Linked DNA regions of Homo sapiens. The protein of the gene in region 1 interacts with the protein of each later gene in a biochemical or structural test. Each region holds a gene or a part of one and is shown on either strand. Other genes may lie near its edges.

Evidence for each region. The genes of interacting proteins can lie anywhere in the genome.
Region 2: the proteins of MYCT1 (region 1) and MARCHF1 form a complex in vitro, tested with the Homo sapiens proteins (one study listed by BioGRID).

Annotation. Positions count from the first base shown.
Region 1 is NC_000006.12:152,692,841-152,701,053, reverse strand, and holds the start of MYCT1 (myc target protein 1), read right to left. Parts: upstream 3,158-8,213; 5' UTR 3,152-3,157; coding exon 2,956-3,151; intron 1-2,955. UniProt on the Homo sapiens protein: May regulate certain MYC target genes, MYC seems to be a direct upstream transcriptional activator. Does not seem to significantly affect growth cell capacity.
Region 2 is NC_000004.12:164,381,020-164,388,123, forward strand, and holds the start of MARCHF1 (E3 ubiquitin-protein ligase MARCHF1), read right to left. Parts: upstream 3,001-7,104; 5' UTR 2,851-3,000; exon of another isoform or gene 2,168-2,850; intron 1-2,167. UniProt on the Homo sapiens protein: E3 ubiquitin-protein ligase that mediates ubiquitination of TFRC, CD86, FAS and MHC class II proteins, such as HLA-DR alpha and beta, and promotes their subsequent endocytosis and sorting to lysosomes via multivesicular bodies.

The DNA of each region.
Region 1 (8,213 bases):
CATATTATCAACCATTGCTATTTTATCATATGTTATCTTGTATTATTCCACAACTATATAGGTTTGTATGTGCATATGTAGCATATGTATAGACGCATAATTGCCTCCAAGAGCATAATCCTTTTGAGACAGACATTGTACTTTTGGTGAGAATTGAATTAAGTGAATAAATGCAAACTCCTGCAACCACATCTTCCCCCAACTTTTCACAAAGCTAGCCATAAGGAAAAAAATGCAAAGCAAGACAGCAGAAACAACCAAAACTACGTCTTCTACAGGACTCTCAAGTACTGAGAGAATAACTGAGTTCAGTATTTGTCTCCTATTGCCTTAGAGGAGGACATGGCAAATTTTCACGGGCCATGTTTCCTGCAGCTTTCATGGGAATGTTTATAGAGAAAGGAAGTGCGTTAAAGAAAGCAAAAATAGGGAGTGGAAGGTGATAGTCTGCATCTGTGTTGTCACTTTCAGGCTAACTTTGTTGCCAACCCTTGCACTTAAATGCTTGCACACCTTTAGGAAGTTTTAGTGGGTGATAGCTATGAAAATGCAAGCTATTGTTTTTGGTAATAACCCGATATTATTATGCCATCATTTAGCGCTCATTAAAGTAAACCAGAAAAGTTATATTGGGAAAACAACTTTTTCTGTACCTTAAAGTGTGCTACGTCTGAGCAATTTATATGGTTCAATGTACAAGTTTTCCTTTTCTAAGCTGTTTTTCTTTATTTTCCAAATTCAATGTGCCAAGCAGATGACTGATTTTGGAAGCAATAACAATGCATTACACTGCATTGTACAAGATTCTCAAAATAATATTTTTGAGGAGTCAGTGGTCAAAATAGACATCAATTTAGATACACAAAAGCAATGGAAATTTAAAAGATTGACATTTATATTTCAGGAAATGTATACATTTTATATGTTTATATTTTTATTCACATTTTATACTTCATATTTTTACCCCAGAGGCAATAATACAATCTTTTATATATTTTCCTAAAATCATCAAACATTATATCTGCTCTCCATGTTTCCATTGGCTTTGTTAATGTTTATCAATGTAACACTCCCCTTTCTGGTTTTCATTATTTTCATCTAATTTTCATTACAGTCACATAACAAGAGAAAGGAAAAACTAGTATTTGGCTTTGAAATAACAGGTTTTAATTCCCTCTTAAGCACAGATTTCCATATTAAAAATATCTAAATTTTTAGAATCAATAGGTGAACTCCAACTAAACATTCTCTTATTAATATCAAGTTTATTTTAATCTTTTAGTCAGTGAATAATGATTTGTTTTTTTAAGTAAACCTGAAATTTAATTTTGAATGGTTTGAAAAAAATAGATTGACTTCTACATATTAATTTTTGCAAAAACTACTTTACTTTTGAATAATTTATACAGAACACTTTTATAATGATGAATTTGATTTAGACAGACTCTAGCTCTTTTTCAGTGTGCATTTAGCACTTATTTTCTCTATAAGTGAGGACAGCAAATAATATTTTAACAAGCATATAATCAGACATCTACAATTCAAAGGCTTCTGTCTAGTGCTAGCTACCTAAAATAACCTATTACCAAAGCCTTTCTTTACAATGTACTAGAATAATCTTTTTTCTTCTTCTTAATTCTGTTACATAAATTTATTAGGAGCTCACCAATATCCTTCCTTTTCAGTCTTCCAGCAAACATAAATGTAGGTGAGAAAAAAAGAATGAGTTAATTCTTTTTTTTCTTATGCTGAATTTTAATATCTTTTAAAACCAATAAATATTTGTCCCCACATTTTTCATCTAAGAAAGTACATAGGTTAAAGGACTGGAGTGAATTCTTTTCATGCAAATTTCTGTGATGGTAGACATATAGATTGCTGGGAAAAGTCGGCCACTACTGCTCACTGTTTATGTGAAAGTTCCCAAAACCCCACCTTGAATCACAGCAGAAAGTCTGAATTGTACACTGAGAGGATTAAAAACTTGTTCTGGCCATATAAACAGATCTGTCCATATATACTATTTTCTTCATTAAAGTGTTTTTCTGAATTTAATTTAAATTGCCTCCTTTAATATAAAAATTTCCCTGAACCCAAGAGTACATGTCAACTCCCCATGTGAGCCCATCTTCTTTGTACCTCTAACCTGGAGCAACTGAGTTTTGACCTCAGCACAGTCCCATTGTCAACATCAGGGAACACTGGACTGTTAGCTGTGGCTGGACTCAGACAAAAAATTCTCCAAAAAATACTTTTGTATTGTTCTTTCCCCCCAACCCCTGTGATAGGATTCCATTGAATGTTACACGTGATGTTATTTCCACTTAATCTTTTCTACTATAGTTTTCTCAAATTTCATATTATTCCATGTTTTATTTGTTATACTCTAAAGTCATTCATTTATTTTACCTGTGTTATTGCACTTTAAATTCACTCATTTAAGTACAGATGTTATTAGGATTCACTTTGGAAATTAAAGCATATAACATTCACAACATAAGTGAAAATAGCCTCTATGGAAAATCTCAGTTTCATAAAATAAAATATATAATCTATAACCTTCAAACAAATGAAAGTTAATTTTTCCAACAAAATCTACATGCCATATTCTAAGCAGGAATTACCTCCACCTTATGTTTTTTATTTTTATCCTCACTATTTCCTAATTATATTTTGTAACACCAGCCAAAATCTGTACTTAATACCCAGATTCTTCTTGAATATCTTCATAGAACACTATAAAGACAAATAAATATATAAGTATATATTTATATCTATAAATATATTTCTGCTAATAAACGTATGAAATAGATTTCTGTTAATAAACATGAAAACTTTAAGTAATCACATTATAGTAAACAAAATGTCTCAGAGATTTTCACTGTTTTAATAATCACGCAGTGCATTTCTTACATCCTAATTTTAAATTTTAAACAGTAAAAGAAAATACCTTACCCCAAAAGTTTTCTGGCCATGGACTCCCTAAACTTGTTGTGTTATTAGCCATAATATCCACAAGAAATAGAAGAAAGAGAAGAAAAACAGAAAGAAAAACCAGTATGTCGAAAAAAAGCAGTTTGATTCTATCTCTTTGTAGTACAGCAAGAGAAAAATAATTTTTACACAACCCCTCATATACTTGTGTTCGCATAAAAGGAAATAAGTGTATCATGTTTCCTGCTTTTATACTCAAATTAGCAACTGTTTTTCTTATCTTGGAATTCCACATGGTTCCTGAGACACAAAACAATGTCCTTTTCATCATTTCCTCAGCTAAGTTCCTAAGTTCTCTCCTCTCAGCCACCTCCAAAACTGCTTTTAGGATAACAGGGTTGTGTGTGTGTGTGTGTGTTTGTGTGTGTGTGTGTGTGTGTTTCCTCATCCCCTACTGACATGGAAAGGAAGACTCCAAACTCTCAGCTACAGCACCTTGAATTAAATGTATACAGAATTGAGAAATAGACCACGTTCCAATGCTTGAAAATTAAATTTATATAGTAAATTGGGGGAAAGGACTATTCAAAACTCAGATACTTACTAAATTCTTTGTTGTTGTTGTTGTTGTTGTTTTTGAGACTTAGTCTCGCTCTGTCGCCCAGGCTGGAGTGCAGTGGTACGATCTCGGCTCACTGCAACCTGCCCCTCCCAGGTTCAAGCGATTCTCCTGCCTCAGCCTCCAGAGTAGCTGGGATTACAGGCGCGTGCCACCACACCCGGCTAATTTTTGTATTTTTACTAGAGATGGAGTTCCACCATGTTGGCCAGGCTGGTCATGAACTAGGCCTGACCTCAAGTGATCCACCTGCTTTGGCCTCCCAAAGTGCTGGGATTACAGCCATGCGCCACTGCGCTCGGCCACTATATTCTTAACATGTCTGTTTCTCTATTTGGTATACAAATTTTGAAAGTTATTTAATTCATTTCATAAATATCTAAGTGTAATTTATATAAAATTTGTGTTACTCTTTACTTAGTATTTAGTATGAAAAAACAGTTTCTACATTGAAGAAATATATTTAAAATCAAGGAGGGAAAACATAAATGCAAAATTTTTCATTACAAAGTTTGTTAAGTGCTATAACAAAGGGTACAACGATCTCAGGAATTTGTTTTTTATAGAGAAGTTTGAGAACTGATATAGGAAAGAGTTACATGAAACATTTTGAGAAACACAAGTTAGTTAACATTTCAAGAGTCTTTCCTCAAGCTTTGCTTGTTTAGACTGGATCCTCTGAGGACTTTGGAGGCACTGGAAATTGTGAATAACGTGTCAAACTGCACCTAGTAACTGCGCTAAACTGCATTCCATGATCTGGCTTCATCAATCTTTGAGTAACTCTAGCCTGAACTCTTGCATATATCTTGTATTAATCATATTCTAACTTATTAGTCATTAGAATATGACTTAGTGCAAAGTAGTATTCCTCTTTGTGAAGTCTGTAATATATTCCTGAGTAGTTCTAAGAAAACAACAAAAAAAGACAGTTATATTAATTTTTGCAGTCCTGCTTCTTCCAAAATGAGGTTGTTTCTGATCAGTCTCATTTTTTTGTGAATTTAAGTATAAATTTATTAGAAATTAAAATATAAATCATCTAAGAGAATTATAAAACGTCATAGAAAATTTAGAGAATTCACTGAGCAAATATAAAGACTCACCTCTATAATATTCTTGCTAAAGTTTATTTTCAAATAATCCAGTAAATAAAAGCTCCTACTATTACTTAACAGACAAAAAGGGCTTACATTTCAACAGTTGTCTTTACTTTTCAATATTGTTAACAAAGTTCATAAAAATAGAAAATTAAAAGAACATGTTATTTCTGAAGAAAATGTAATCTGGATGAAAGTATATTGAAATACTAATCACTTTACTGTTCTAAAAGCATCGAGTACGATTCTTAATTACTAAATGTATTTTTAAATACACATTTTGCATTATTAAAGGTTACCTGATTGCAATAAATCCTAATTTCAAAGGTGTATATAATTTCCTAAACACTGCATAGATTGCATTTTCCTTAAAATAAACCAAAATGAGTGGAATGGGTAACTGACATTGTCTCAACTGCCTTCTGTGCAGAAACAGAGCTCATTCCATTTCAGGGCTGGGATACAGGCTGACACTTCCTTTCATTGTTCTATGTTGAACTATGCAGATTTTCTCCCAATGGGTTTTCATTTTTGCAGATGGCCACAACCCAGTCAAAACTCTAAAGAAAATGTGTTTCTTAAATCAGTTTATGACCTAGGAATAGCTTGCTTGTGGACAGCACTGGCTCTTGTCTGTGTATGTAATTTGCTTGGTAAGGGTTCATACCTTTCCCTGGCATGGATCTATCTAAGTGAATGTTTATGTCTACGTGATTTTTGAGTCCCATGACTTGTCATGCCACAACAGGAACTTGATTTTTATCTTTACAAAACTGTTAGGTTTGCTTTTCTACTGCTCATTATTTCATAACCTGGGTCTTTAGGTCTGGGTTCTCCAGTGGTCATAAAGTACATTGAGAAGTTTGTTCTTGCCTCAGATATTCACATGACTTCCTCACTCTCCTCATTCACGTCTCTGGCCAGAAGTCACTCTTCAACAGGCACTCGCTAACCACCCTGTCTAAAGTGTTCCCACTTAAACCATGCTCTGTCTCCTGACCCTATGTTATTTATCATACCCTGACATTATGCTATATATGTGTCTTAGTCTGTTCCAGCTGCTATAACAAAATATCCTAAACTGGGTGGCTTTAAAACAACAGAAATTTATTTCTCAATTCTAGAGGCTGGGAAGTTTAAGATCAAGGGGTTGGCAGGTCAGTGTCTGTTGAGGGCTCGCTGTCTCGTTGACAGTCATCTTCTCGTTGTGATCCCACACTGTGCAAGGAGTGAAGGGTCACTTTCAGCCTCTTTTATAAGGACACTAATCCCATTCATGAGGGTTGGATAACCCAAATCACTCCCAAAGTTCCCACCTCTTCCTACCATCACCTTGGCGGGGAGGATTTCAACATATTAATTTTGGGGGAACGTAAGCATTCAGGGTACATAAAAATGCTTTGCTTTTTTGGTTGTGTTTTGTCTCTTCCACCAGCAATAAGTTTCATGAGGATAGGAGCTTTATTGATTTTGTTCACAAACTGAACTCCAGTGGCTGAAATAGTGCCTGGCATGCAATAGGCTCTTCATAAATATTTATTAAATAGGGAAATGAAATAATTTGAAGGGATCTCAAGATGAAAGTATTTTGGACACTCCAAGTTAATAAAAGTGTCACTGGACCCTAAAAAACAAGTTAAAAATCTCTATTCACATGCATTTTAATAGTTTTACATTTTAACTTATAACAATATCAAATGATACAAAAGAACATCATCACATTTAAGAGAAGGTACATATTTGACATTGAATTTCCTTTTTTAGCTTTATATTTTAAAACTATAATAGGTTTTATCTTCCCAATATTAAATTGACCCAAACAGTTTCAGTAAACTGGGAGTACTGTCAAAACCTATAAGAACTCCCCACAAAAAATTAAAATTTTAAATCTGTTTTTTAATTCAAGTTTTTAGAAAGTAACTAGGAGGATGACTAAAAATATGAACATGTCATTTTAACAGAGTTATGCCTTTTTTCTTCTTTGTTTACATGGTATAAATGTTGGTCTTCTTTTTCTTTCTCTTTAAATTCATTCACTTTGGTAGGGAGAATGACAAAATTAAAAATAGAGGTGATGATGACAACATTAAAATAGAGGTCAGGTGAAAATCTAGCTGTTAAGTTTTAAGATTTTACAAACTACAGTGGAAGTAAAGATAATTTCCCAAGGTCAGTGTCATTAATTTTTTTCTCAGTAAATAAGTCTTCATGAATGTCTGATTGTGGCTATGGAAAGTGATGATCAGATCTGAGAGGGAAATTGACTTAAATCTGAACAATGAGAGTCAGAGCTAGAGGCACAGGGAGAAAGTGCTGAAATCAGTTCTGATAGTTTTTTGGCTGAGTCTTCAGGGTTTTCTACATATACGGCTAAATCATCTGCAAATAAAAATATTTTTACTTCTTCTTTTCTGATGTGTATGCTTTGATTACATTTTCTTCTCTAGTCTCTGGCTAGACGTCCAGTACTACGTTAAATAGAGGTGGAAAAGTGGGCATTCTTGCCTTGTTCCCGGTCTTAAAGGAAAAGTTTTAAGTTTTTTTCCCATTGATTATTATGTTAGCTGTGGGCTTTTCATATATGGCTTTTATTATTCTTTCTATATCTGTTTCTCTGAGGGGCTTTATCATGAATTCATGTTGAATTTTCTCAAATGCTTTTTCTTCATCTATTGAGAAAATCGTGTATGGTTTTTAAGCTTCATTTTCTTAATGCAATGTGTCACATTGATTAATTTTCATATGTTGAATTCTCTTTCATCCCAGAGATAAATCCCACTTGATCATGGTGTATAATCCCTTTAATGCACTCTTGAATTTGGTTTGCTAGCATTTACTGAGGATTTTTGCATGTATTTTCACCAGGGATATTGGCCTATATTTTTCTTTTTTTTGTGGTAGGTTTGTCTGGCTTTGGTATTAGGGTGGTGGCCTCATAAAATGAGTTTAGAAGCATTCCCTCTCTTCTGTTTTTTTGTGAGAATGTAGGACAATTGTTATTCTTTGAATGTTTGAAATCAGTACATTTGCAGGCTACAAAATCAACATACAAAAATCAATGGTATTCTATACACAATGAAAAATCTGAAAAGGAAATTAAGAAAACAATTCCATTTACAATAGCATTAAAAAGAATAAAATACTTAGGAATAAACTTAACTAAAGAGGTGAAACATTTTTACACTGAAAATTATAACATTCTGATGAAGGAAATTAAAGAAAACCCAGGTAAATGAAAAGACATGCCAATGTCATCATTTGGAATTATTAATATTGTTACAATGCTCACTTGCCCAAAGTGATCTAAAGACTCAATGCAATCCCTATCAATATCTTAATGGTATTTGTTACAGAAATAGAAAAAAAATCTTAAGATTTATATGGAATCACAGAAGACCCTGTATAGCCAAAACAATCTTAAGCAAGAAGAACAAAGCTGAAGGCATTCCAGTACCTGATTTCAAAATATACTACAAAGAAACAGTAATCAAATCAGTATGGAATTAACATAAATACAGAAAAACAGACCAAAAGAAGATAATAGAGAGCCCAGCAATAAA
Region 2 (7,104 bases), on another chromosome or scaffold:
ATGAAAGCAAGAGGTCGTCAAACAGCATAAACTTATTCTTCATACAGGATCTTTCCATGGATACTTCCCAGTGTCCTGACATCATGTTTTTCGGTGACCTTGGAACATCACTATTGCCTGCCCTGGGCTTTGTGCTATGGCTTTATTTTTGCCCTATAATGCAACTTCCTCCTTTTTCTCACCTTGCCCAGTTAAGAGCCCTTGTGCAACAAAATAGGCAAAGTATGTGTGAAATACATTAAAGAACATTATGAGAATACTCTCTAGTTCAAGGACACTATTTTACTCCATGTGGTTTTAAAAATAATATTGTACTAGCTATCAAATAAGTCAAATTATATCTATTTATAATATGCTTATACTTTCTGAGAAATTTTCTCAGTATTCTAGTGGAATGTGAAGAATCTATGTACTTTTGACCTTCTTGGATAAAATATTTTTGAAATAAAATTAAAGATTTCATACATAAAATGTAATCTGTTCTTCTCAATATACATTTTTATTTACCATGTTAAGGAGGTAAAACATCTTATCGCTAAAGGTAATATCATATGCCAAAAACCATGAGCCAAACACCACAGTACCTCCTGTTGATCATTGCTAGCTGATTATCTGATCAGAGTTATACACATATTGTATGTAAATGTAGATTTTTATATAGTGTACACCCCATCATGTAAGCACGTCAGAAGCTCGTACGTTCATAAGTCTATTTCAAAAAGAGTTTTTGCTATTACAATACTTGAGGAAAGTAGTCAACATGAGCAACAGGTTCTCTAAGAACCTTAAAGTAAAACCCCATTATCATAAAAACATAGTACAACAAAGTTAGAAAGACGACTTCAGATAAAACAGGTGGAGCCTATTGTGACAATTAGTCAAGAAACAATGAAATAAAAAAAACTGTATCACAGAAGAAAACGTTGCTGACAACCCCATAAGTCCTGGATTAAAACAAGCTCTTTGCTCATAACATTGGTCTCTCAACATAGCGTGACATAATCAGACATATAATTATGCACTTCCCAGTAGAGATACGCATGTAAAAGCTACAATGAGCTTTTCCAAAATCAAAACTGACACAGCACCTTCTGATAGTCCCACCATTCATATTTAGTAAAGCCTCCCTGTATTATCTCACCCAGTTTCTTTTTAACTTCCACCACATTGATTATTCCAATAATTTTCTATCAAATCTGTTCTGAAAAGACTCAAACTTTATCAAAAGAGCAATCACTAAGAAAAATTATTTCAATCCTGTTTCAGAAAAGCTTCATTAGAATCATCTATCTTTAAAGAAAAAAAATCATCTGAAGAAAAATTAGCCTCTTTCAAGAAAAATAAAATAACCCTTTGAATTATTATTGTGATTGTTGCTTTCTTATACCATAGCATTATGTTAGATGCTGGGATACCAAACTGGTATACCAAGAATCTCCTTAATGTTCAAGGATTATTTACATTTAATATACATTAAATTCATACATACAAAATTACTATTTAAAGTTTAAATATTTTCGATTGTAGTGGATGAAAACAGAAAAAGTCACTGAACCCCCAAAGTAGCAAACTTTCACTTCTTTCCATCTTTTTCACGAGATATTCCTTTTGTAAACACATTGACATTAGAAACAGATGTTCTGATAGGTACCACCGCTTCCTTGTGATCTGAAAATTGAACCTCCTAAACAAGGAATTCATCAATAAAACCTGTGTCCGCCAAGCAAAAAGCCAGGGGGTTGGGTGTTGGCATGTTGGCTATATAGCACTTATAGGCGAGACAACTCTAAACTAAGGTACCTGAGCAGGTTCAGAATCTTTTTTCGTCAAACCCACAGAGCTCTATAATAGAAAACATTTTGATCTCAAAAATGTTTAGCAAGCAAATCTTTTCTGGAACTACTGAATAACAATAAGAATTGCCAGGAAAACGTGAGGCTCTCTAACTACATATTGGCCATGCCTCTGATTCCATTCACCTGTCACAAATCTCCAAAATCAGCGCTTCAGAAACCAGAGAAAAGAGCGAGAGTGAGTCTCCCTTAACTTTGCCATTTCCCTCACACCATTTGGGGATAAAACTTGGGCGTCTCTCTGCCTCGACTGGTCACTCCACTTCCTGGAGCTCCAGAAACTCCCTCAGCACCTGGATAACTGCGACACTCACCCGTGAGCGCAGGACCCTCCTGGCGTCTTAAGTCCCAGCTCTCAGTCCCGCTGGCCGCAGGAACACAATGACATCTCTCGCCCAGGAGGGCGGTTGCAGGGAACCGAAATCGGACACAACAGTTGCAGTGAACCCGACTCAGGGTTGAGCGCATCAGCGCTAAACCCAAGACAAAGGCTGCCCTGTGTCTTCCGTACTCAGCGCTCTCCTTTGGTAATCGGTCCCCGTCCCCTTCAAGCCCACACTAGGAGCGCGTGAGCCTGTGAAGTGGCTGTCATCGACTCCGCGCTTTCCGAGGGGTGCGGCTCCGTGACTAGTACCACGCCGGTGTAAACAGCGCGCCGCGCACTGGGGATCCGCCAGAAACGGCGCGCGCGCAGAGCGGGCGCTGGGGGCCAATAGTAGCAACTACCCCAGGCTGCGGGCTGGAGCCGCCTCCTCTCACCAGAGAGGCGCCTACTGGGCGAGCCCGCCGCCCGCAGGTTGGGTGGCAGCACCCGCCGCGAACCCCAGCCACGCTCCCCAGTGGACCCACCAGGCAAAGGCACCTGCTGCCTGCCCTCCAGGGCTGATGCTGTGCCAAGCCCCGCTCGGGATCAGGGACAAGCCGCCCAGGACTACCAGCCGGAGAGAAGGGGCTCCCAGTGAGGCTGATTGAATGAATGATGTTTGCAGTCACTTACCGGCGGAGGGTGAAGTAGCTCAGGCGGCCGCCAGGCTGCGTGCGGCCGGCATCCCGGGGCGCGGGCATTCTCCCATCCTTTGTCAGTTGCGGGTGGAGCGCTCCTCCCCAGCTAGCGGACGAGCAGCCGGGTGGCAGGCAGCCCGGCTCTGGCTCGGCTCCCCAGTCCTCTCCCCTCCTCTGCTCCCCCTCCCCTTCTCCGTCCCCCTCTCTGAGCCGGCATTCACTGGGCTCCCATGATGTCATCCAGTGGAAATCTGCCATGCTCAAAGACTGGAATAATCCAGCGCTCACGCGGGGAACGCAGAGCAGGCGGAGGAGGCAACAGAGCCTCTAGGAGTTCCCAGAACTAGCATCTCCAGGTTAACTGGAGTCAAGGACAGGACATAGGGGAGTCTGCGGAAAGCAGGCTCCGAGGGTGTATGTGGGCCGGGTGGGCGCGGTGGGGATGGGGCCGGGGATGAAGAGCCTCTTCTTTGCCGTAAAGATTCCTAAATCAGTACTTAAACTGATGGCAGATGCCAAGGATAAGGAGAAAGTTTTTTTCTGGCTGCTCAGTAGCTCAGGTGCCCCATCTCGGTGATGGACACCTACACTGCAGCCACGATAATAATTAGAACCCCTGGAACCCTCAGAGCCCTAGTCACAATGAGAAAGTTTAGGATGTCTGACCAATGACAGCTTAAATGATGAGCAGCTAAAGTGAGGGAGAAAGATGTGTACTGTTTACAGGCGGGAGTCTGAGGCAAAACATTAAACAACGAGGGGACCTCAACAATCTATGACATGAACACCGAAAAGACCGCTGGTCTGAGGCAAGAAGGCACCAGTAGCAATTCACTCCTAGCCTTAGTATTGACCTCCTGTCTTCCCACCATATACTAATGGACACTCGAGAAGCGACTCTCTTGTGGCCTCACCCAAAGACTGTCATCAATGATGAAACTATTTAAATCACAAGGTTTATTGAAACTCATAAAAGGTGCGATGCCAAATCTTTTGCTCAAGATTCTATATAACATCAATAGAAGTTTTATTAGAGGAATAGACAAACAGCCTGAGTATTTTTGAAGATTCCGCTCTTTTCATGGAAACAGGCAGATACACCAGATCTGAGACCCAGCCCTACAGCAATCTAGAGCAGCTTCATGTCAAAAACTCTCCTGTTCAGGGACCAGATTTCAACAGCTCATGGTTTGTGCTCTAATCAGTCCAAGCTTCAAGGAGGCTCTTGAGTTCCCAGGATTACCTACCACCTGTCATTCCTGGAAGAGACTAAGCTTGCAGAGAAAAGTACCAGCAGCCAGTGCTGATTAGGCAGTCTTCAGTGAGAGTGCTGGGTGGGAACGTGCAGCCTCTGCCGCTGCATTCATCACCATTATCCTTTACAAGTGTGAAGACTAAGAATAACATTTATTACAAGTGTAGATACGGTTAGAAACTCCTTAATCTTTGTAAATACAAAGAGGACTCAATAAAATAATAACAACAACAATTTAAAGGCTACTCACTATCAGATAGGCTTCTTATTGCATTGTGAAATTGTGAAATCCAATGGGACTTTTCTGAGGAAAAAGTAATAAGTATGAAAAAGCAGCATCAGAAATTATTTTAAAAAATAAACTATCAGTGTAATGGATAAAGAAAATAATGGCACATATACACAATGGAGTAATATTCAGCCATAAAAGAGAATAAGATCCTGTCATTTGCAACAACATGAAGGAACTGGAGGTCATTACCTTAAGTGAAATAAGCTGAGCACAAAAAAGACCGACTTTGCATGTTCTCACTCATTTGTGGGAGCTAAAAATTAAAACACCTGAACTCACAGAGATAGCGATTCAAGTGATGGTTACCAGAGGCTGTACAAAAATATAGATAGATAGAATGAAGAAGATCTAGTATTTGATAGCACAACAGTGACTACAGTCAACAACAATTTATTGTATATTTTCAAATAACTGAAAGTATAATTGAAATGCTTATAACACAAAGAAATGATAAATTCTTGAGGCAATGATACCCCATTTTCCCTGATGTGAATATTACACACGGTATGCCTGTATCAAAATATTTCATGTATCCTATAAATATATATACCCACTATGTACCTATAAAAATTAAAAACTAATAGAGTATAAAAAAATTGTGATGCATGTACTTTGTGAAATCTATGTGTTCACTTTTATTTTCAAATTAAAATATTTTAGGGATCACTAGTATTTATATCATTATATAATAAGTAAAAAATAACATATCAAATGATTGAACAAATGTTAGAAACAAATATTTTTAAATACCAAAATAATAAAGATTTTTTTCAATCGGGGCCAAATGGGAAGTAAACCAGGAGAAAAGGTAAAAATTTGGAAATGTAAGTAATGGCAGTCTTTGAGAATAGGAAAACAATCTAATGGCTTGAAAAAAGTAATTAGTACTGCTAATGACACTGTTCTAAGTGCATCAGAAGGTCAAGTTGTAAACCTTCCCTAGGAGATTGGTTCTTTAATGCCCTATCTATCTTCTTTGCCTCTGTTTATCTTCCAGTTCTTCAGCATTCTCTGGACTAATTCATAAGAATGGAGACAAGAAGAAGGTCATAGTTAGCAGATCTGGGGAATTTATAATAGTAGCCATAAAGATCGGAAAATGCATCCTTCAGCTTTTTTTCTTTTTCATCACTGCTCTAAGGAATTAAAGCAAAACCTAAATCTCTTACTTTAAAGAAAAAATGCATTCTTACATGATAATGTATTTATTTCTGTGAAAATATCTTCAGTATGTGATTTGGGACTTTTTTGGGAATTGAAAATACTGTGCTGTGGCAATCACTCAGGACCCTGAACTTAGCAAAGTGAATTTACTGTATCTCTACAATAACTTCTTTCCTAATGTGTCCCAACCTACTAACACCTTTGCCTGTGCCACTGACATTTTCCACTACTACTGCATGCTTTTTTATTTGTAATTCTTAAAACGTGGTGTTTGAATATTTTGAAATATTTTTATCCAAATGGATGCTATAAATAACTAAAACATCTAATTGTTACATGAGAAAATGTAAAAGTATCGTAAGTCTTAGCCAAAAAAAAGTCTGAAATCATATTTTGCAAACCTAACTTACATTTGAATCACATTTAAATGGTGAATATATTAAACCTTGGAATTGAAGATTTAGAGTAGATATATTATTTCTGCCTCAATTATTGATGCTCTACTGTACCATTTTCATACTGATACATGAGTCTCTTCACAAAAGCAGCAAGTGCTTTGGTGGGAAAAATAGACATATTTTAACATTTTTTATTTGTGAATTCCACAGAATATAAACTTTTTATACTCTGGTTTCATTTAAATTGATAGACTCATTTATAGCTACTGACTTTTATTTTTATTCTTATTTGTTATTTATTTATTTATTGAGACAGAGTCTTGCTCTGTCACCCAGGATGGAGTGCAGTGGTGTGATCTCAGCTCACCGCAACCTCTGCCTCCTGGGTTCAAGCAATTCTCCTGCCTCAGCCTCCCGAGTAGCTGGGATCACAGGCATGCGCCACCACACCCAGCTAATTTTTTTTTTTTTTTTTTTTTTGTATTTTTAGTAGAGACAGGGTTTCACCATGTCGGCCAGTCTGGTTTCAAACTCCTGACCTCAGGTGATCCGCCCACCTTGGCCTCCCAGAGTGCTGGGATTACAGGCCTGAGCCACTGTGCCCAACCTTGACTTTTAAAAACAAGTTTTCCTACATACAAATTTGTTAATTGTTGATACATAATACACAGAAATAATATCAGTAAGTCCTTATCATGTGCCAAATACTGTGCTAAGTTATTATATGTTACTCCATCTGCTCTTCAAATCACCCCATGATACAAGTGTATTAACCTCTCTTGAAGATGAGGAAACAGAGACATACAGAGGTTACAAAAATCGTCCAGGCAACTAAACTAGTAACAAATCAAATTAAAATTTGAGTATATCAGCCTAAACATATAAAGTGTGTCCTCATAACAGCATACTTGCAAATTTTAGGTATTTTTTCCACTGAAAAAAATGAAATATGAAAAAATAAAATGTTATATACATGCATACATTATATATACATATATATACACACATATATATATTCTATTTGATGAAGTAAATAATATGATTTTGTGAACTTTTCCATCAGTTAACAAATTCATCACTAATTTTATTTCCATTATCCCTGCAAATGAAATGCTTTCAAAGTTATTTATGAAGAAAAAG